3 linked regions of the Homo sapiens genome follow. The protein of the gene in region 3 purifies or fractionates together with the protein of the main gene of each other region. This does not show direct contact. Each region holds a gene or a part of one and is shown on either strand. Other genes may lie near its edges.

Evidence for each region. The genes of interacting proteins can lie anywhere in the genome.
Region 1: the proteins of PARP11 (region 3) and MAPK12 purify together in Homo sapiens (affinity purification with mass spectrometry; 3 studies listed by BioGRID and IntAct, with this or other methods). This does not show direct contact.
Region 2: the proteins of PARP11 (region 3) and RNF114 purify together in Homo sapiens (affinity purification with mass spectrometry; 4 studies listed by BioGRID and IntAct, with this or other methods). This does not show direct contact.

The regions. Positions count from the first base shown.
Region 1 is NC_000022.11:50,252,401-50,259,220, forward strand, and holds the end of MAPK12 (mitogen-activated protein kinase 12), read right to left. Parts: intron 5,902-6,820; coding exon 5,843-5,901; intron 4,794-5,842; coding exon 4,682-4,793; intron 4,565-4,681; coding exon 4,535-4,564; intron 4,247-4,534; coding exon 4,199-4,246; intron 3,800-4,198; coding exon 3,685-3,799; intron 3,482-3,684; coding exon 3,410-3,481; intron 3,295-3,409; coding exon 3,215-3,294; intron 3,132-3,214; coding exon 3,053-3,131; intron 2,971-3,052; coding exon 2,797-2,970; intron 1,081-2,796; coding exon 1,001-1,080; 3' UTR 501-1,000; downstream 1-500. UniProt on the Homo sapiens protein: Serine/threonine kinase which acts as an essential component of the MAP kinase signal transduction pathway.
Region 2 is NC_000020.11:49,931,531-49,939,396, reverse strand, and holds the start of RNF114 (E3 ubiquitin-protein ligase RNF114), read right to left. Parts: upstream 3,001-7,866; 5' UTR 2,985-3,000; coding exon 2,845-2,984; intron 1-2,844. UniProt on the Homo sapiens protein: E3 ubiquitin-protein ligase that promotes the ubiquitination of various substrates. In turn, participates in the regulation of many biological processes including cell cycle, apoptosis, osteoclastogenesis as well as innate or adaptive immunity.
Region 3 is NC_000012.12:3,869,919-3,877,995, forward strand, and holds the start of PARP11 (protein mono-ADP-ribosyltransferase PARP11), read right to left. Parts: upstream 3,482-8,077; 5' UTR 3,312-3,481; coding exon 3,294-3,311; intron 2,039-3,293; exon of another isoform or gene 254-2,038; intron 1-253. UniProt on the Homo sapiens protein: Mono-ADP-ribosyltransferase that mediates mono-ADP-ribosylation of target proteins. Plays a role in nuclear envelope stability and nuclear remodeling during spermiogenesis. Inhibits the type I interferon activated signaling pathway.

The DNA of each region.
Region 1 (6,820 bases), on a different chromosome or scaffold from region 3:
AAAACCCAGCCCTCTGCGCTCACCAATCCACCACAGGGGCCAGAGGGGTCTCAACATGTCCAATGTGCCCCGTCCCCCCAGGGACTGGCTGGCGCTCACCACTTCACCACAGGGGTCTCAACGTGCCCAGCGTGCCCCCTCCCCCCAGGGACCTGCTGGCATTGGAGGATGCAGAGAGCTAGGGTAGATCCTAACACTCCTCCCCATCAGGCCCTGCCCCTGGGTCTGGCTTCAGGATCCACACACAGTGGCTTAGAGTCTAAGCCATTAGCAGGTCACCCCGTAAAAGGGGAGGGGCCAAGCCCTAACGTGGGGGTTCGAAGATCACTGGCACAGGCCTGGGGGAAGTGGGCACCAGCTTTGTGGCCTGGGAGAGATGGGATGCTCAGGCCCCCCTCCTGGCTCTAAGGGTCTGAGCTATCAGGCCAGCCTCCTCTACATGCAGGCCAAGGGCCCGGAGGTCTTAAGGTGGGACCCGGCATGAGGACGCACAGCCAGAACAGGGAGCTACAAAAGGGTCTATTTCCTTCCAGCCACGCGGGCACCACACAGCTGATTTACATTCCAGGCTGGGGGTGCAGGAAGGTCCACTGACGTCGCCCAGGAGAGGGGATGTCCCTGAGTTGGTGCCCTGCGCCCACCCTCTGTCCTTCCTCTGCATGGCCCAGAGCAGGCAGGGCTCAGAGGCCAAGGCCTGATCTGGAGCCCCACCAGCTCTGAGGTTTCTGAGAGCACCGGGCAAGTGGGCCACTGCTCCAGGGATCAGAGGCCATCCCCAGGTCGGCCAGAGGTCTTGTCCAGAAAGTTCAGGTGCTCCTCCATGATGGGCGCCCAAGAGCAGAGGCATGGCCGTGGGGAGGAGGGTCCATGGAACCCGGGCGTCTGCTCTGATGGATGCCTTGGGATGCAAGCCCCAGCCAAGGTCAAGGTGGCAACGAGAGTCCCCTCTCAGGTGGAAGGTGAAGGTGGTCCTCACTGCCACCCCGGAGCCCAGAGATCTTCACAGAGGCGTCTCCTTGGAGACCCTGGCCCCCAGCTGCCGGGGAGGCTTGAAGCTGAGCACCTCTTTGTAAGTAACACCTGGCGGGGGTGGGGGGGCGGGCACAACAGAGAGGGGGGTCAGCCTTTGCCTTCCATCCTGGGAGTCGCTCACAGACACGCCTGGCGGTGCCTCGTGGGGCCCTTCTCTAATCCTAATGTGGTCTGAACCACTGAGAGAAGGTTTGTGTGAAGAGGCCATTGCTCTAGATCTGGATTTTCCAGGGAAAGGGGAGGTGGCCAGGGCTTGGCCACATGTCCACCACGGTCTGTCCTAAGAGCTGAGGCCTCAGCCACAGTTGTGTGGGTGGGGACTACAGAGAGGATCCTATGGCCCATGGCTTTCAAGTTATCTTTCTAGCAGCAGAAACCTTTAATCAAACAAAGCCAAACTCATAAGCACACGAATATGCACACAGCGAAGGGTGGAGGCCCTGCTGCGGGCACCCAGGGACCCGTGGTCGTAAGGAGCACATGTGAATCTCAACCCATCCAGCCCCACCCAGCCAGTGTGGAGGACCAAGGTCCCGCACCCGAGGCAGAGCCAGGACAGGGCCTGAAACATGGCACGGCTCCCAGTGTACACCTACTTTCCCCGGGCACACCCACCCCAGGCTGGTCATGCAGCCATGAAGAAGACACAGCCTGCCATCCTGGAGCAGAAATGAAGCCAGGTCCAGCACAGCCTCAGGCCGCAGCATAGCTGCGGGAGCTGGGGAGGCTTCTCTGAGTCCAGCCTGAGGCTGCACAGGCTTTGGCCAGCCCTCCAAGTTGAGGGGATAGCCCCTGGTATAGGGGATGATGGACCCCAGCAGTTGGGGTTGGAGTCTGGACTGCTTAGCGGGGGCTGGGGGAGACAGGCGAGGCCCTGGGGACTGTCTTGGGTATACAGTTGTCCAGGGGGGAGGGATCCTAAAGTGGGGCAAGGAGAGGGCTGGGCGCGGTGGCTCACGCCTGTAATCCCAGCACTTTGGGAGGCCGAGGCGGGCGGATCACGAGGTCAGGAGATCGAGACCATCCTGGCTAACACGGTGAAACCCCGTCTCTACTAAAAATACAAAAAATTAGCCAGGCCTGGTGGCGGGCGCCTGTAGTCCCGGCTACTCGGGAGGCTGAGGCAGGAGAACGGTGTGTACCCGGGAGACGGAGCTTGCAGTGAGTCAAGATCGTGCCACTGCCCTCCAGCCTGGGCATCAGAGTGAGACTCCGTCTCAAAAAACAAAAATGGGGCAAGGAGAGGCAAGGACAGATTCAGGAGGTGTGAGCAGAGAGGCCTTAGGGACAAGCGGACGTGGTGAGGGTGTCAGGGTGGCCCAGGTCTCTGGCCTGGACATGGCGGAAGGGCAGCAGGTCTGGGGGCCAGGAGGGGCTAAGTGGGCCCTGGTTCCCTGACTCACAGCTGCCTTTCACCACTCCCGGCTCCTTCTGTGCCAGCCTCTGTGCTGAGCCTGCCAGGAACACCCTTCCCTTCAACTTCCAGCTCCAGCCAGAGGTCATCTCCACCAGGCCACACGGCCCCATGCTGCCCTGACCTCCCATCCTCCTCACCTGACCTGCATCCCAGGGATGGGGATCTAGGACTCTGAGCCTGGCCACCTGCACAGGGCCCACAGGGTCCACACAGGCCCTACCCGGAGCCCCCAACTCACGGGTCCACACAGGCCCTACCCGGAGCCCCCAACTCACAGGTCCACACAGGCCCTGCCCAGAGCCCCCCACTTGGGTCCACACAGGCCGTGCCAGGAGCCCCCCACTCACGCTTCCATTCATCCAGTGTGCGGTCAACGTCGTCAAAGGAGTCATCATACTTCTGGACCTGGGGCTCATCTTCCGTGTCGTGCAGGGACTCGAAGTAGGGATGGGCCAGCGCCTCGCCTGCCGTCACCCGCTGCTCCGCGTCCAGCACCAGCATCTTCTCCAGGAGGTTCACAGCTGCGGGGGAAGGTGCATCAGGCCAGACCACGGGAGGCCCCACACTCCAGCACCCGGTGGCCCCCACACTAGCCAGCCGTACCCAGAGGGCTTGCATTGGTCAGGATAGAGGCAAAATCCTTCTTCTCCAATTCGGGGAGGCCCTTCATGTAGTTCTTGGCCTGTGTGGGAAGAAAGGGTGAGGGGCCAACACCAAGGCCCAGGTCCGCCCCCACCCCCACCCAGCTCCCCACTCACCCCTTACCTCATCGCTCTGCAGCCGCTGCACAAACTCAGCCGGAGGCGTCCCCGTCACCTTCATGATCTCCTTCAGCTGGTCCAGGTCTGCACCGAGGTCAGGAACACAGCTCGGGGGCCAGAGATCAGGGCCCCCACTGCCCCCACCTGGGCAGGAGCCATCCCCACCCGCCCCTGGTGCCGCCCTGCGGCTGGAGGATACGGTCGCTGCCCTTGAACAGCGTCTTGCCTGTGATCATCTCCGCCATGATGCAGCCCACAGACCAGATGTCCACTGAGATAGAAGCCCTGGTCAGCTCCGTGGGCAGGGGGACAGGATGAGACGGGGAGGGAGGAGACACCAACACAGCCCACCTGCCCGGCTCCCACCCCAGCTCAACAGCCTCCCTGGGAGCAGCCACCACAGGGCTGTCCGTGAAGAAGTGGAGAAGCAGATGGTGCAGCCTGAGAGGCCCAGATCTCTGGGCAGCTTCTCACCCGTCTGCGTGTAGCGCATCCAATTCAAGATGACCTCGGGAGCCCGGTACCACCGGGTCACCACGTACCCAGTCATCTCACTGTCTGCCTGCCTGGCCAGGCCGAAGTCCAGGATCTGTGGGAAGAATTGGGGAGGTGGGTTCTAGGGGACTCCCAAGGAGCGGACAGGCCACCCACGGTCCAGGAGACCCCGGGGGGTTGGACTTGAAGCTCCCAAGCTGGGGCCTCCTGACAACCTTCAAGGACTTGAGGCCACGCCCTCGGACCCCAAACTGCCCCGAGCTCCTCCCTCTGGCCAGTGCACCAAGCCCAGCAGCCCTCGGGACGGAGCAGGTGCCCTGGGTACGGCATGTTGTGTACCACTGCCTCTTGGGCTCACCCACCCACCAGCTCCTCAGCCACTGCCCAGAGCCTGGGACCTTGGCCCCCTGCCCAGGCCTGACAGGTGGATAGATGGGCAGATCCAGAGGGGGCCCCTGCCCCACCTCAGGGCCCCCTGCCAGGCAGCACACACCTTCAGCTCACAGTCTTCGTTCACAGCCAGGTTGCCGGGCTTCAGGTCCTGGGGGCAGAGGAAAGGTGGCCACTGTGCCCCACCCTCCCAAGCATGGGCACAGCCAAGAGCCTGGGTGGCACCTAAAGATGGGGCCACCGGACCTGGCCCCCTTGCTCTCTGCAGCCCTTCAAGGGCAGACCAAGGTACCTGGGCACCCAGGCAGGTTCCCACCAGGGGCTGTGCATAGGGCGTGGCTCAGCACCCAGACCCCATCACATCCTCACAGGTGGGACGTGGAGGCGGGGGGATTGCACTGGGGGAGGGCTGATGAGCGGCTTCTCCACCGGGACTCACTCTGTGGATGATGCCGGCAGCGTGGATATACTGCGGGGGGCAGAGGATTTGGCAGGCTTCAGCGCACCCTCTCAGAGCCACAGGGCCCTCCTCTGCCCAGCCCCGAGGCCCTGCCTGCCTCCCTGCAGCCTCCCCCGGGGCCCGTACCCTCAGCCCCTTCAGCATCTGGTACACGAGGAACTGGATCCGGTCCTCGCCTAGCTTCTCATGTTTCATGAGCTTGCCCAGGTCGGTGCCCATGAACGGCATCACCAGGTAACTGTGGGAGGGGCCGGAGCGCTGTCAGCGGACAGAGCCAGCCTCTGCATCCCAGAGACCCACCCAGCAGGCCCAGGCTCAGACCCGTCCCGGATCCAACAGGCACCCCCAGGAAGGTCACCCCTGCAGCACACATCCACACTGGCCTCGGTGTCCTCGCAGCCCCACCTTGCAGTGCCAGGCTCCATCCTCCCGCAACTGTTACTGCCAGCAGCGCTCACACCCCCCTCCCACCCTGAGGACTGTCAGGCAGGGAGGAGGCTGCCTTGGGGTTTTTGAACCCTCCGCTGAAGCGCCCTGCGTGCCAGGCTAGGGGCTGAGGCTCCATGGTAGAGGCAGCAGGACTCGAGTCTTCACAGGCAGGGGAGGGAGGCAGTCAGGTTTCAACTTCACAACTTTGTGCCAGAAATGAGGGAGGTGCCTGGGGGCGATGGGGGCGCGGCAAGGCATCTGGGTCAGAGGGGTCGGCTGGGCCGGTGGAGACAGACACAGGAGAATGGTATTTAGCACCTTCCCAGAGGCCACTGACTTGACCTCTGCAAGTCAGGCGGGAGGCGCCTGCTACCCTCTCCAGGCCTTCCTCGGCCTGGCCCTTCACTCTTGGCCGACAGGGTGTGAGTCCCAGGGTGGTCGGCTGCAGGGCAGGGGCAGGGTGGGTCCTCCCTACCGCTTCTCCCCCACCCGCTGGAAAAGGTCAGCAGCTCCAGTTACCGGCCACACACTTGGTGCCAGGGTCCCGAGCACGGGACCTTCCTGTTAACAAATGGTCAGGTCCAAGGTTCACACCTCCGGTGCTGGAGAGGGCCCAGGTGCCAGGCGTGGAGAGAGGCAGCAGCCCCAGCTCTGCCCAGCTGTGCCAGTGCCCGTGGGTCCCAGGACCATGTGGGGGAGGGCGTGGGGTGGACAGTGGTATGGGGAGGGGGTGGGCGGTGTGCATCCCCCACTCAGGCTGCAGGAAGAGAACCCCATTGCCAACCTAGAACCTGAAGCCAGTGCCCAGAGCTGCCCAACACCCCTCGTGCCCAGCGGCCAGCCCAGGTCGGCACTCACAAGTCCGTGAAGTCATCCAGGGTCTCATCAGGAGTGAATACGTCCAGCAGCCCGATCACCTGGGGGGGCCACATAGGGTTGAGAATGCAGCAGAGGACACGGGCTGGGGCACCCCCCAAGAGTGGCACAACCCTCTGGGCAGGAAACCCCCTCTGCAGCTGTCATTGTCATGCCCCACTGTCCAAAGGGCCTGGCTCTGCCCACTGGCAGTGTGGCCCAGCCCTGGCACACATACCCACTGGCAGTGTGGCCCAGCCCTGGCACACATACCCACAGAAAGGTTATTTTTGGACGGTGACAACCGGGATCTTCTGGGGGAGGGGCAACCCGGAGTCTGGGATGGCTCCGAACCATCCAAAGGGCTCCTGCCGCCTGACCCTTTCACCCCTCTTCACCCCAACCAAACAGATCCAGGCCCAGGGTGGGGACAGCGCTATGGAAAGAGGCCAGGCCTCTGCTGGTGAGGCCCAGGCGGACAGCACCGTGACCCACCAGACCTGGTCCCCTCAGCACCCCTGGTTGGGGAGATAGACAGTAGACAGGTCATGTGACAACTGCCGCCTCAGCATTTTGGGGTGACGGTCCCAGGGAGGCCTGGAGTTTTGCACAGCCAAGGGTGGAGGGGCAGGTAGACATGTGGGCTGCGGGACACCTGGCAGAGGGCACACACAGAGTGGCCGAGGCAGGAGGGAGCACACTTGGATAGTTTGAAGAATACAGGGAGGGAGGCCAGGTGGCGGAGGCCCAGGCCAGGGAGGGGCTGAGGAGAGGCCAGAGGGAGCCGGCAGGGCAGCACACACCAGGTGGAAGTTTGGCTTTGATCCCAAGAGACGGGGACGATTTAAATGGGGACGTGAGGCTAAATGCGTCCTCCTGGCCGTGGTGTAGGAACCGGCCAGAGTGAGGTAAGAATGGACACAAGCTGGAAGGACAGCTCCGCCGGAGCCACGTGGGCCAGAGCCATGGGCAAGAATGTGG
Region 2 (7,866 bases), on a different chromosome or scaffold from region 3:
TGCCTCTAAGAATCTCCTTCCTCCTTGTCATTAAGTTAGATGTTAATGCTGTTAGGCAAAATTCCAGACCAGGTACAGAGAAGGTGAGGGAGTCTATTCATTCACCACTGAGGGCAATGGAAACTTGACAAAGCCCTGTTCTCATGATGCTTACATTCTAGAGTGAAGGGAAACACAAATGTTAATTTCAGATAGTGATTAAAAATATGAAGGAAATATGGCAAACAGACCAGCTGGGGTGATCATAGAAAGCTGCTTCTGAGGAGTTGGCATTTGAGCTGGGTGGGACCTGATTACGAGGACAGCCACACAGATCTGGGTGCAGAGCTCCACACCAAGATCACGCCACACACAAATGAGGACTGGAAAGGAAGGCAGGCAGACCTTGGGGGCCATGATGCGGTAGACCATGGTGAGAAGGGCAAGTGATGAGGCAGTAGAGACAGGCAGGGCCTGTGGCCATCACTTGTGTTGCCTGTTCACAAAGGCAGATGACAAGAGGAACCCAAGAGAGCACAGAGGGTCCAGTGAGTATAATGGAACCAAACCCAGCATGCAGATAAAAGCAGCTCGAAGTCTCTTCTCAAGCACACACACAGGTACAGCTCATCTATCAAATGTTCACGAGTCACTTTGTGCCTGAGACATGCCCAAACTACCAGCCTGCTTTTGAACAACTCAAATATCCTGGGATGGCTTTTCAGTTTCTATTTCCTACTTATGCGCCCTTTTCTAGTTCAGCCTTCCGATGCTCCACTCCGTCACAGTGCTAGGAAGAAATTCCCTTCTCTTGGGCACCCAGCCAGCTGCCTTTCTCCAGCTGTATTCTACCAGATTGGAGAACACAGTCATTCAGGGCTTGAAATAAAGTTTTATAAAAATCCAATGCCCCAGCCAGAGTTGCAGTGATGCTCAACTTTCCAAGCACAAAAGGTAAAAATCAACTAGGCACAGGAGAAAGCAGTCGGTTGGAGCTAGCGGGGATTTGGGCTGCCCTCACAGAGGTGCTTCCATCTGTCTTCAATTTGCACTGAACTGCTGATCACGTGGGGCTAGGACAGCGAGGATAGAGAAGAGCCAAGGTTTGAAAACCAGTACTGTTCCTTGCCCTCTGACCTAGGAAAGGTTCACCAAGCTCAAGAAAATCTCAAATTTTGCTGCTCTTCATTTAGCAAACTGTGCTGGGTCTAGCCTTTTTACAAATGTTAATAGTAAATGAAATCCACTGAATTAATCCAAAATCAGGTAAATCTGATCCAAGGATAAGTGGATTCAATGAAAAAGCTAAAGACCACTTCAACTCTCGTGAAGCTTGCTTACACGACTTATTAGTTCATTCAACCATTACCTGATCACTCACCCCACGCACAGAGGTGTGATCCCTGAAATACCCTCCCACTTGCAGAATGAATTTTTACAATAGTTTGACCAGTCATTGGTACTTATTTATAATCAATTCACTGGACTGTAAACTCTGAAGGCAGAGTCTACCCCAAAATCTGGCACACAGAGGCCATTCCAGTCAGTTCAGGGGCAATAAAGATATGGCCACTCCGTCATGAGCTGTTAAGTTTTGCTCTGTGCAAGCAAGGAGAAGGAAGTTAAGTCCCAGAAAGGAAGTGGGGGAAGTAATTTAGATGGGGATGGTATTTGGTGAGGTAACTTAACCTGGGACTTGAAGCCTGAAAAGGGAGGGGTGGGGGGAAGAGTTCCAGGCTAACCGAATTGCAAAGATGAATAGCCTAAAGCAACATGATGAAGCAAAAAGCAGCCAGCTAGGTGCCAAGCACTGTTCTCTGGACTACTGAAATGGTCACCTGCAGTACATCTGGGAAGAGCTAGGCCACGGTGACCCTTCCCTAAGAGAGCCTCGGACCCTCAGTGTATTCACCTGTAAAATGGCTGCCAACCCTCCCCCGCTGCAGGGTGGCTATAGAATAATGCCCATGGAGTGCAATGGCTACTGTGCCCGCTGCCAAGACCAATGCCAAGGTGATCCCACGATAAGCACTGAGAGGGGCCAGAGGAAAAGCCAATTCTGAGGCAAGAAGCAGGTGGCCACGTTGTCTACAATTCTTTCAACTCAGATGTGTTTGTGCGTCTGATGGAACAAGGCTTAGATTCAAATCGACCAACCTGACCAACCTCGAAAGCCCCGGCCACAGCCCAGGACCTGGACTGGACATTTATACACATATCTGCTTTAATCATTATAACCACTCTATTCACAATATTCAGGTCATGAAGGCTTAATTGAAAACTGAAAGAAACAAACCTCCTACACAGGAAGTAGAATGCTAACAATCCCATCTGCCAACTCCCACCCCCCTTTCACAGCTAAGGGCAAACTGGCCAGATCCCCATAAAGACTTCCCTTTTGTTGTTTTAGTCTAGTTCAGCGTTTCTCCCGACTTTAGTGCACAGTAGAATAACTCGCCACAGCTAGACACGACGCCAAATGTCCTATGCTTTAAGAGCGACGTGGACTAGAAAGGAAACGTCGGCTCTCCAAGGGCGGACTTCGGAGCCTAAAGTCCCCGCAGGGCACGAGTCCACTATCACGTGTGGGAAGGAGACTGACAGGCCGCCTGGAACATCGCAGGCGCTCAACAGACAGCAGCTGCCCCGCTAAGACGGGCGGAGGAACGGGATACTTAGGAGTGAGCGGGGCGGGACAGAAGAGCGCCCCGGCAGCTTTCACGGCCCTTAGGAGCCCCGGGGGACACCCCCGGGAGGCCCCTCTGGGTGGGTCCTCTGGCTCCCGCCCTGAGACCCATCTCGCTCCTCGGCTCCATTCCCTTCCCAGTTAAGCGCCCCCCGACCAGGCCCGGGCTCGCCGCTTACACGTGTCCGCAGGGCACCTGTACCGGCTTCTCGTACACCTCTAAGCACACGGGACACGTGAAGCGTCCTAGGGGGTCAGCCTCCGCCGCCGGCCCCGCCAGCTGCGCAGCACCCCCGCAGTCCCGCTGTTGCGCCGCCATCTTGCTGCCGCTCTGCGCCGCGCAACGGCGGCCGATGAGGAGGAGGCCGAGGGGGCGGGGCTCGCGGGGCGGTGAGCGGTTGGGGGCGGGGCTAGCGGGTGGGCCGCCCCTCGGGGCCCCTCTGACGCAAGCGAGCTAGAGGCCGAGGGAAATCTGGAAAACGTGGAAGCCAAATCCAAAGGCTGCCAGAATTGGGACGGGCTCTGCGCGTGGGCCGCTGTTTTCCAAATTTATCGTTAGTTCGGCACCACTTGCACTATCACTATTTATCTTCGAATCAAGTTGCTTTTTCCTTAAATTTATTTATTTATTTATTTAATCTATTTTGGGACAAGGTCTTGCTTTGTCGCCCAGGCTGGTGTTCAGTGGCGCGCGCGATCATGGCTCCCTGCAGCCTCGACCACCGGGGTTCAAGCGATCCTCCCACCTCAGCCTCCTGCGTAGCTGGACCACAGGCAGTCACCACCATGCCGGACTAATTTATTTATTTTTGTATTTTTTGTAGAGACGGGGAAAGGAGGGGGGGAAGGAGTGGTGCAGAGAGCGGGCGGGTCTCACTGTGTTGCCGAGGCTGGCCTCGAACTCTTGGACGCAAGCAATCCGCCTGCCTCGGCAACCCGAAGTGCTGGGATTACAGCGGTGAGCCACAGTACCCAGCCATTTCTTAAATTTAAGCAAATTCTAATAACAGATCTAATTCCTGAGCTGCAAGAAGAAAATCAATATCATTTATTTATACAAAGGAGCTGGGCAAGGTGGCTTACTTCTGTAATCTCAGCACTTTGGGAGGCCGAGGTGGGCGGATCGCTTGAGCCTAGGAGTACTAGAGCAGCCTGGCCAACATGGTGAAACCCCGTCTCTACTAACAATACTAAAATTAGCCAGGCGTGGTTGCCCATGCCTGTAGCCTCAGCTACTCAGGACGCTGAGGCAGGAAAAGCCTTTGACCTGGGAGGCGAAGGTTGCCGTGGGCCAAGATGGCTCACTCACTCCAACAGTCACTAAACTCCAGCCTGGGCAACAAGAACGAAACTCCGTCTGAAAAAAAAAAAAAAAAACAAAAACACAACCTGGCTAACACGGTGAAACCCTGTCTCTACTAAAAATACAAAAAATTAGCCGGGCGTGGTGGCGGGCGCCTGTAGTCCCAGCTACTCGGGAGGCTGAGGCAGGAGAATGGCTTGAACCTGGGAGGCGGAGCTTGCAGTGAGCCAAGATCTTGCCACTGCACTCCAGTCTGGGCGACAGCGCGAGACTCCCTCTCAAAAAACAACAACAACAACAACAAAACAAAACAAAAAAACCCCAACAACAAAGTACATTCATTTCATATTGTGCAATCATCACCATCAGCTATCTCTAAAATTCTGGTCTTCTTGCTAAACTGAAACTGAAATTCTGTCCCCATTAAACAATAACTTCCTCTTCCCTCCTCCCATCCCCATACCCCCAGGCCCTGGCAATTTTCTGTCTATGATTTTGAAGCACTTATAGCTATAAAATTTCCCCTGAGCACTGCTTTCACTGTGTCCAGTAAATTTTGGCATGCTGTGTTTTTGTTTTCATTTGTTTCTCAATATTTTCTCTATTTATTTAATTAATTTATTTATTTTGAGATGGAGTCTCACTCTGTCGCCCAGGCTGGAGTGCATTGGTGCAATCTCTGCTCGCTGCAGCCTCCCTCTCCTGGATTCAAGCAATTCCCTTGCCTCAGCCTCCCAAGTAGCTGGGATTACAGGTGCCTGCCACCACGCCTGGCTAATTTTTGTATTTTTAGTAGAGACAGGGTTTCACAATGTTGGCCAGGCTGGTCTCAAACGCCTGACCTCAAGTGATCCGCCAACCTCGGCCTCCCAAAATGCTGGGATTACAGGTGTGAGCCACCCAGCCTGGCCTGTTTCTGAGTATTTTCTAATTTCCCTTGTGATTTCTTCTTTGATCCATTGGTTCTTTTAAGAGTGTGTAAATTTCCACAAATTTGTGAATTTTCCAGTTTTCCTTTGATATTGATTTCTTTTTTTTTTTAACCCCCCCATATTGATTTCTAGCCTTATCCAATTGTGCTTGGAGAAGATATTTGGTATGATCTCTTTTATTTCTTCTTTCTTTCCTTCTTATCTTTCTCTCTTTCTCCTTTTCTTCTGTCTCTTTTTGTAGAGATGAAGTCTGGCTGTGTTGCCCAGGCTGGTTGCAAACTCCTGGGCACGAGCAATCCTCCTGCCTCAGCCTCCCAAAGTGCTGGGATTACAGGCCTAAGCCACCACAGCTGGCTGATGTCTACCTTTTAAAATCTCTTGAGGCTTAATCTGTGGCCTAACATATGGTCCATCCTGGAGGATATCCCATGTGTGCCTGAGAAGAATGTGGATGCTGTTGTTGCTGGGGAGTGTCTGTACATGTGTTAGACCTGGTTGTCTTACTGTGTCGCTCAAGTCCTTTATTTCCTTACTTGTCTCCTGTTTGTTCTATTTATTCTTGGGAGTGGGGCATTGAAGTCTCTAACTATTATTGTGGAATTGTCTATTTCTTCCTTCAATTCTACCAATTTTTGCTTCATATGTTCTGATGGTCTGTTATTAGGTATATAAATGTTTATAATTGTTATATCTTCTTGCTGTATTGAACTTTTTATTAACATACAATGCCTTCTTTATCTCTTGTAACCTTTTGGACAAGTAATTTTTCTTTTTTCTTTTTTTGAGACAGGGTCTTGCTCTGTCGTCCAGGCTGGAGTGCAGTGGTGTGATCTCAGCTCACGGCAACCTCTGTCTCCTGGGTTCAGGTGATTCTCCTGTTTCAGCCTCCTGAGTAGCTGAGACTACAGGCATGCACGACCACGCCTGGCTAATTTTTGTATTTTTAGTAGAGACAGGATTTCACCATATTTTTTAGGCTGGTCTCAAACTCCTGACCTCAGGTGATGCACCCGCCTCGGCCTCCCAAAGTGCTAGGATTACAGGTGTGAGCTACCGTGCCCGGCCTGGACAAGTAATTTTTCTGATATTAGTATTGCCAGCCCTCCTCTTCTTTGGTCACGCAAAAAGATATTTGCATGAAATATCTTTTTCCATCCTTTCAGAACCAGTCTATAAAGTGAGTTTCTTATAGAGAGCAATACAGTTGAATCATGTTCTTTAAAAAAAAAAAAAAAAAAAGCTGGGTATGGCGGCTCATGCCTGTAATCTCAGCAGGAGGAGGCTGAGGCGGGTGGATCACCTGAGGTTAGGAGTTCAAGACCAGCCTGACCAACATGGTGAAACCCTGTTTCTACTAAAAATACAAAAATTAACCGGGCCTGGTGGTGCATGCCTGTAGTCCCAGCTACTTGGGAGGCTGAGGCAGGAGAATCGCTTGAACCTAGGAGGCAGAGGTTGCAGTGAGTGGAGAACGAGCCACTGGACTCCAGCCTGGGCAACAAGAGTGAAACTCAGTCTCAAAAAAAATTTCTTTTAAATTAATTTTTTTTTTTTTTGAGACAGAGTCTCGCTCTGTTGCCCAGGCTGGAGTGCAGTAGCACAATCTCGGCTCACTGCAAGCTCCGCCTCCTGGGTTCACGCCATTCTCCTGCCTCAACCTCCTGAGTAGCTGGGACTACAGGCGCCCACCACCACGCCCGGCTAATTTTTTTTGTATTTTTAGTAGAGACGGGGTTTCACCATGTTAGCCAGGATGGTCTCGATCTCCTGACCTCACGATCGGCCCACCTCGGCCTCCAAAGTGCTAGGGATTACAGGCGTGAGCCATTGTGCCCAGCCTAAATTTTTCCTTCCTTTTTTCCTTCCTTCCTTCCTTCCTCCCTCCTTCCCTTCCTTCCTTCCTTCGTTCCTTCCTTTGTTCCTTCCCTCCTTCCCTCCCTTTCTTTCTTTCCTTTTTTTTTTTTTTTTTTTTTTTGAGACAGAGTCTCACTCTGTCACCCAGGATGGAGTGCAGTGATGTGATCACAGCTCACTGCAGCCTTGACTTCCCAGGCTCAAGTGATCCTCCTGCCTCAGCCTCCTGAGTAGGTGAGACTACAGGCATGTGCCATCACACCTAGCTATTTTTTCTATTTTTTGTAGTGATGGGGTCTCACTATGTTGCCTAGGCTTTTTTTTTTCTTTTTTGAGACAGGGTCTGGCTCTGTTGCCCAAGCTGGAGGACAATGGCAAAATCTTGGCTCACTGCAACCTCCACCTCATGGGCAAAAGCCGTCCTCCCACCCCAGCCTCCCAAGTAGCTGGGACTATAGGCGTGCACACCACACCCAGCTAATTTTTAAATTTTTTGTAGAGACAGGGTTTCACCATGTTGCCAAGGCTGGTCTCGAACTCTTGAGCTCAAATGGTCCTCCTGTCTTGGTCTCCCAAAGTGCTGGGATTACAGGAGTCAGCCATCATTATTAAAATTTGTTTGCTTAAATTTAAGAAAGGGCTGGGCATGGTGGCTCACGCCTGTAATCCCAGCACTTTGGGTTGCTGAGGGGGGTGGATCACTTTTGTCCAGGGGTTTAAGACCATCCTGGGTAACACAGTGAGACACCCCACCACCCCCAACTCCCTCCCCCATCTCTACAAAAAATACAAAAATAAGTGGGAGGATCACTTGAGGCCAGGAGTTCAAGATCAACCTGGGCAACGTACCAAGACCCTGCTGTCTACAAACAAACAAACATAAAATTAGCTGAGTGCAGTGGCATGTGCCTGTAGTCTTAGCTACTCAGAGGAGGGTTGCTTGAGCCCAGGAGTTCAAAGCATCATTGAGCTGTAATCTTGCCACTGCACTCCAGTCTGGGCAAGAGCAAGACCCTGTCTCAAAAAAAAAAAAAAAAACAAAATTAATGCCAGGTGCAGTGGCTCACACCTGTAATCCCAGCACTTTGGGAGGTCAACATGGGAGGATCGCT
Region 3 (8,077 bases):
TACATGTTATTATATGACCAGCAGGCAGGTAGAGTATATGCAGTGTGGATATGCTGGACAAAGGGATGATTCGTGGCCCCAGGCAGGATGGAGCACAATGGCATGAGATTTTATCACACTACACAGTACAGTATGCAACTTAAAAGTTATTAATTGTTCATTTCTGGAATTTTCCATTTCATATTTTCAGACCGCAGCTGACTTCTGGTAAGTGAAATTGTGGTAAGTGAAACCAGGAAAGCGAAACTAAAATAAACTAACAAATTACTAGAGAAACCCACACGTAGAATGTTGATTTTTAAAACCAAATTGCGCTTACTGATATCATTCATATGCTTATAGGAAGAAAAACTATTAGTAGTAATAAAATACAGTAGCAGTAAGACAAATATGTCTTATTTGGGTGGCAAAAGAAGAATGTGAGATGATCTGTGGAGGATTCCCCACTTTTAACAAAAGTCAGCCTGCTCTGCTGAAATTAGCAAAATCACACAGGTGATTTCAAAGAAAACCCATTGCTTACAAAGAAATGAGATAATGATATAACAAATCAAGTATATAAGACATTCATTAATGCCTTTATAATTCTCACAAACACACAAATAATCCAACAGCAAATTCTGATGTATGTGTGACGCAGGAGGGAAAATTCATAGTAGGAGCAAAGAATTATCTTTAGTCCTTGCTGGTACAACCACCATCATGAATTCAACAAATATTTATTGAGTGCCTACTATGTGTCAGGTTCTGTTCTCTAGTTGAAGATACTATAGGAAAAATAACAGAGAAAAACCCCTGTCCTTGTGGATCTTACAATATAGTGAAAGATTTAAAACCTTGAGTAAGACATATACTTGGGTGGCTAAAGGGTTTGTTATGGAAAAATTAAGAAGGACTGATAACAAAAAGGGAATAATAGCTACATAAAGATATAAATACAAAATGAAGGTTGTTGATGACAGATAGTGAAACTGAATATATAAGCAGAGAGCACATTCTCATTATTCTAAATTATTTTTGCTAAAATCAAATACAAGTAATTACTTTCCTCTAATGCAGCTTGAAGAGAGTATTATACGTATGAATCGAAAATACTAAGATGATGACTATTGTTATATGATGCACAAGAAGGAACCATAATGTGCAACTACCAAATCCAGACCAACAGACTAGTTTCTACTGGATAAAAACTTAACTTAAAAACATAGGGAAATGTACTGATAAACTTTCTAACTTATCTGGAAATATATTCCAGAAATGAGAGGGGAAGAATACTGATTATAGGAAATTATTGCAAATATGGAAATTAGGGGTTATTAAAGTAAATTTATGCAGTTATCTCAGCATAGGAGTAGTTTCTTATGTTTCATACACAATTATGCATTGCATAAAAGCTTTCAGTCAACCATGGATCGCATATACAAGTGGTCCCAAAGATTGTTAACACTTTATTTTACTGTATCTTTTCTATGTTTAGATACATAAATACTTTCCATTGTGTTACGAATGCCTACAGTATTCAGTACAATACTATGCTGTACAGATTTCTAGGTTAAGAGCAATAGGCTATTCCATATAGCCTTAGGTGTGTAGCAGGCTTATGAAAGTACACTCTATGACGTTGGCACAATGAAAAAAATCACCCAGCAATGAACTTCTCAGAACATATCCCCATTGTTAGGAGGCGCACGACTGTATTTAGTCCAACAACTTGCTGAAATGTGATTCTACCATTTTTCCAGTCAACTCCTAAGTTTTAAATACCATACATCTGCCACCTTACCAGGCAGTTTCAACCATAACAACAGAAGAATACTCTTGGCAAATAGATCCCACTCTCTGAGGGTTGTGTTGGGGCTCAGAAAATACTACCCCGAAGTATGACACTTTGGCATGCTGAATACTTTGAACTAAAAGAGATTGGAAGGCCTCAGAAGCAGCCTCGGAAGCAGTCTCTCCCTCTGATCTCCTGCCCTTCTGTCTCCTGCCCATCTTTCGTCCCAGAAGTGAGTCACAGAAACCAGAATTCTTCCCCAAGGTGAGTGATAGAAACTAGGATCCCTCTCCTACAAAGCAAGCCATAAAAACTGGAACTATTAAGCTTTCCCTGCCATTGTCTATAGGAACTGGCCATAAAGAAATTCTCTAATCTACCTTGCCTGATAGTAGGTCGCTAAGACCCTCATTCCAGAAGGGACCTTCCTCCTCCGTAGGAGGAAGAAATGATACACAGAGAGGCCAAGAAGAATCTGAACAAACAGACCTTGCTGGGCTTCCTTCCTCAGTTTATTAACATTAGAGTATATCCTTTGTCCAGTCACATTTTTACACAGTTGTCTATTCTTCATGGGTCCTACGCATAAAAATAGAGATCTCCCTGGTCTCTGAAGTGCCTGGTGGTGTAAAACTTTGATTAGATTTGCTCTGCTTTTACCTTGTTAACCTATCTTCTGTTTTAAGGAGTGGTGGCTGTGATCCTTACAATGGGTGGTGAGGAAAGGTACTAAAGTTTTCGGCCCCTACGTTGCACTTTAAATAAATAAATGTATAAAAGCAAAGTAGACAAAGACACATGAAGTCATAATGAAAATACCAGAGTCAGCCAAGGAAGAAGGCAGACTTGCAGTTGAAATGCTCCAGATCACTTTGTCCACCGAACGAAAACATCTAAGAACATACAGTCCATACTCCAAGTTTTAAACGACTGTCCACCAAGAAGGGAAAAGGAGAACTGATGGCTCCTCTTAGGCCCATTCAAGACAAGGGGGTCCCAATTCCCTTGCTTTAGACTGGTGGGACTGGCAGGTAAACCTGAGGCAAATGACTGACTACAGGTTCCAAGGCCAGTTACTCCAATTAGAAAGCAAAACACAAAGTTTCAAAAAACAGTGAAGGCAGTCGGGAGGCTGAGGCACGACAATCGCTTTAACCCGGGAGACGGAGGTTGCGGTGGGCCGAGATCACGCCACTGCACTCCAGCCTGGACAACAGTGCGAGACTCCGTCTCAAAAACAACAACAACAACAAATGGTGAAGGGATGAGGCTGAAACATCACGGGAAGTAAAATAAATAATTGTAACAAGAAAACAATAAAGCATTGGAGAATCCACCCAGGCACTTCCACTGCTTAAAAAGGTACAGACTACAGAAGCCAAAAGGCCCGGGAACTCCGGTCCCGGAACTCAACACCCAGACTGAAGCGAGCGCGGGGAAGCAGTTCCGGTGACCCCCTCCCGCCCCTCTCTCATCAACCCCGCCCCCTGGGCCCGCCCCGTCCCGCCCGGCTACTCACTGGATTCGCTTCCCACATAACGGTGACAAAATCGAGCGGAGAGAGCCTGTGGGAAGGGGCTAGCCGCGGGGCCTGGGTGTTGGATTTTTTTTTTTCCCGCGGGTCCCCGGGAGCGAAGGGACGGAGATGCAACCTTTACGAAGGCCTTCCTCCTCCCCCTCCCTGTCACAAGCCAGCGTTTACAGACCACCCAACCTCCCGACTTCCGCCCGACGTTGGCCAGTCAGATCTGTCTCCGCCCCACTCCTACAAGCTCGCCCCGCCCCTGCACGCTTATCCATACGCGCGCGGGCGGTCGTCCTGGGCGGGGCTTGCGAGTCTGTGTCTGACGAAGGAGTTTAAAGGGTTTCTGGTCCAACTGTATCACCCAGTGATCTTAAAGCCACGGCTGGCTGTATTTCTTTCCTATGAAACAAATTTTTATTGATCACCGTGTAACGACCAAGAGTCACACAGGCCTGGCAATGGCATTTGGGAGAAACTTCATAATCTTTCAATATCTTCATCCTCAAAATGGAGATGGTAGTAATATCTCCCTATGAGTGAGATTATTGAAAGCATTTAGCACAGTATTTGGCACACAGAGTTCAATAAGTGACGGTTATTTGCTCACAAGGGAACCTTTACATACTATCCCTGCCCTCAAGATTTTATAATCTAGAAAAGAAAGCAAAAAGTAGTTTAGAAAAGTTAAAAAGTGCAATATGATTTATAGGTAATATGGTGAATAGAGAGTGCTATGCGAGCATATTTACCTAGAGTAGAGTGTCAGGAAAGCTCCCTCAAGATGTTTAAAACCATGAGGATGTATTCCTACTGATGTAAAGAGAGCTAACAGAGTGAAATAATCTTCCATGCAACAAAGGATCTACCCCATAGGAAATGAAAATTAAACAGCTCATTATAGATCCTTCTGGACTTTTCTATGCCTCTACACATTGAAAAAAATGTAATCAAAGAATACCTATAGATTTAGAACCTGATTTTTTTTTCACTTTAAAGATTATGTGGCTATCCTTCCATTCCATTAAGTTTAAATCTGTTTCATCATTTTATTTATTTATTTAGGCAGAACCTCGCTCTGTCGCCCAGGCTGGAGCGCAGTGGCGCCATTTTGGCTCACTGCAACCTCCGCCTCCCGAGTTCAAGCGATTCCCGTGCCTCAGGCTCCTGAGTAGCTGGGATTACAGATGTGCGCCACCACGTCCCGCGAATTTTTGTATTTTTAGTAGAGACAGGTTTTCGCCATGTTGGCCAGGCCAGTCTCGAACTCCTGACCCCAGGTGATCCACCTGCCTTGGCCTCCCAAAGTGCTGGGATTACAGGTGTGAGCCATCTTGCACCCGGCCATATTTTAAAGTAGACTCATGGCATTCCATAACTTATGCGTATACTACGTACACACAAATAGACACACACATTTGAAATAATCTACTGAATAGACGTTTGAGTGGTTTTCTATTTTTCACTATCCCAAAAAAATCCTTCAACAGGCATTTCTTCACATTTGTCCATTTACTTCTTGGAATTAATTCCTGGAAATAAAATAGTTTACTAAGAGATTATTTTTGCCAAATGGTTGACCAGTTGCCCCCATGTCATTTAGTGAATATTCTTTCCTCACTACTTTGAAGTGCCACTGTTAATTACAACCTAAATTTGCATATACATATACATAGGTATACATACACGTATATATCTGTTTCTGAACATTCTCCTCTATTAATTATCTGCTTATTCCTAAAATATGCCACAGTTATAATCATTACATATTTAATATATTTGCCTTTTCATAAAGGAACCTCTCCTAATTCTCTTCTTTTTCAAAATTTTCAATATCATGGGTCTTTCCATTCAGAAATACTTGTTTTCTGTATCTTTAGATGCATTAACAATTTTTTTTCAGATCTGCATCAGCATCTGTAAAAAAAAAAAAAAAATCACATAGGTTTGCATAATCCTTGGGAAGTTTGTTCCTAGATATTTTATAGTTTTTTTGTAAGTGAGATATTTCTTATTGCTGTAATTTAGGAAAGCTATTGACTTTTGTTTATTTACCTTGTATCCTACCACACTATGAAAAAATGTCTTGTTAGTTCTAATAGCTTGACAGCTCATCTCTATGAATTTGTACACAGACAATCATTATCACCTGCAAATAATGCGTTTCTTTCTTCCTATTGCATTGGTCAAAACATCAGAAAAATGTTTAAGACTACAGGACAAGATAATGGATATCCAGCTTTAATGCAGTAAGGCAAGCATGTGCCCATTTGGTGCTAGTGCTAGTTGGTATTCTTTTTTTTTTTTTTTGAGCTGGAGTCTCGCTGTGTCGCCCAGGCTGGAATACAGTGGCACAATCTGGACTTACTGCCACCTCTGCCTCCTGGGTTCCAGCAATTCTCCTGCCTCAGCCTCCCGGGTAGCTGGGACTACAGGCACATGCCATCATGCCTGGCTAATTTTGTATTTTTAGAAGAGATGGAGTTTCACCATGTTGGCCAGGTTGGTCTCGAACTCCTGACCTCAGGTGATCCACCCGCCTCAGCCTCCCAAAGTGCTGGGATTACAGACGTGAGCCACTGCGCCTGCTAGTTGGTGTTCTGAAAATACACTATCATCTTTAAAGAAATTTTCTTCTATCCTGTTTTACTACATGCTGTTAAATCAGGAAAGAGTGCAAAATTTTACCAACTGTCTCTTAGCCTCTATCACTATATTTGTTTTTTACTCTGACTCTTTTATATAATGAATTATGCTCATTGATTTCCTAGTGTTCAACACATTCTTACATTTCTGAAATAAACTCTGCTTTGTCATGTTCTATTATTTTTTGATCAAATGAAAGCCATGCTGGGTTTGATTTGTTAATCTTTTATTTAGGATTAAAATGTATTTATAATTAATAAAATTGGTCCATTGTTACTGATTTTTGTGCTTGTCTGTAACAAGTTTTGGTATCAGAGTAATGCTAGCCTTGAAGAATGAACAGTAGCAGTTTAAGTAATTTAGGAACTAGCTCTTCCTTGAAGTTGGAAGCGAATTTTTACAAAGCAGGTTTAACTAGAAAGGTTAGAGCCAGGTCCTCAATCTTTTGTGAGGCTGGAGCTATACTTTGTTTTCTTGAAGATGTGGAGTTGCCTGAGCTGGTGGTAGGAGAGTGGGATGGAGAGAACACAACTGGTTTGAGTACATATTGAGTGAACAATTCCTTAAAATATACTGCTCTATACCTAAGTAACATGAAGGGAAGTGAAAACGGCTATACGAATTTTAGTGATTTTTTTGCTTATTTTTACTGCTTTAGGACCACTGAGTTAAACAGCAAGTATTGGAAGCGTCCTTAATGATTATTTAGCACACACAAAGTATTTAAACTTTTTTTAAATAAATGGCCACTATTTTAAAACTGGGAAATTTCAAATTTAATAATATGGGCCTCCAGTTTTGCTTTCACACTGTATTCCCATATGTCAACAACTGACTGAAGCCATGTTGACTCCTTTAGACTGGGAATGGGCTGTCAGTCTCGTTTAAATTACCTTCCTAGGCCCTTTCAGGTATTTGGGCTTATACCCAATGAGACACCTCTTATCTTGCTGAGGCAACATAATAGATCTAGGACTTCCTAAAATATCCTCACAGAAAACAACTTTACCGAACTCTCCCATAACTTACTCAAGAGTGAGCTCCATCACTGTAGCCCAAACTCTTGTGGTCTTTAGCAGATGATGGCAGTTCCCCCTTATCTGCAGGGGATACATTCCAAGACCCTCAGTGGCTGCATGAAACCACAGAAAGTACCAAACTTAGTATACACTTTTTTTTCCAACCTGATAACCAAGACAGCTACCAAGAAACTAATGGGCAGGCATAGCTCAGAGATATTTCCAGTCCACTTCCAGACTATCAGAATAAACCAAATATTATTATAAACCAAGTCATATAAATTTTTTGCTTTCCCGATGCATATAAATCTTATGTTTATACTATACTATAGTCCAGTAAGTGTGCAATACCATTATGTCTATAAAAAATGCTCATACCTTAATTTAAAAATACTTTATTGCTAAAAAATGCTAACAATCGGCTGGACCTGGTGGCTCACGCCTGTAATCCCAGCACTTTGGGAGGCCAAGGTGGGCAGATCACCTGAGGTCAGGAGTTCGAGACCAGCCTGGCCAATATGGTGAAACTCCATCTCTACTAAAAATACAAAAACTAGCCAGGCGTGGTGGCAGGCACCTGTAATCCTAGCTACTTGAGAGGCTGAGGCACAAGAATCACTTGAACCTGGGAGGCGAAGGTTGCAGTGAGCCAAGATCACGCCACTGCACTCCAGCCTGGGCAACAGAGTGAGACTCCTTCTCAAAAAAAAAATGCTAACAATCATCTGAGCCTTCAGCAAGTGATAATCTTTTTGCTGGTGGAGTTTCTTGCCTTGATCTTGATGGCTGCTAACTGATCAGGATGGTGGTTGCTGAAGGCTGGGGTGGCTACAGTAATTTCTTAAAATAAGACAACAGCAAAGTTTGCCACCATCAACTGACTCTTTCTTTCTTGAAAGATTTCTCTGTAGCATGTGATTTGGTTTGATAGCATTTTACCCACAGTAGAACATCTTTCAAAATTGAACTCAATCCTCTCCTCTCAAACTCTGTTGCTGCTATATCAACTGAGTTTGTGAAATATTTTCAGTCCTATGCTGACATTTCAGCAATGTTCACAGCATGATCGGCAGAAGTAGATTCTATCTCAGGAAACTTTCTTTGCTCATCCGTAAG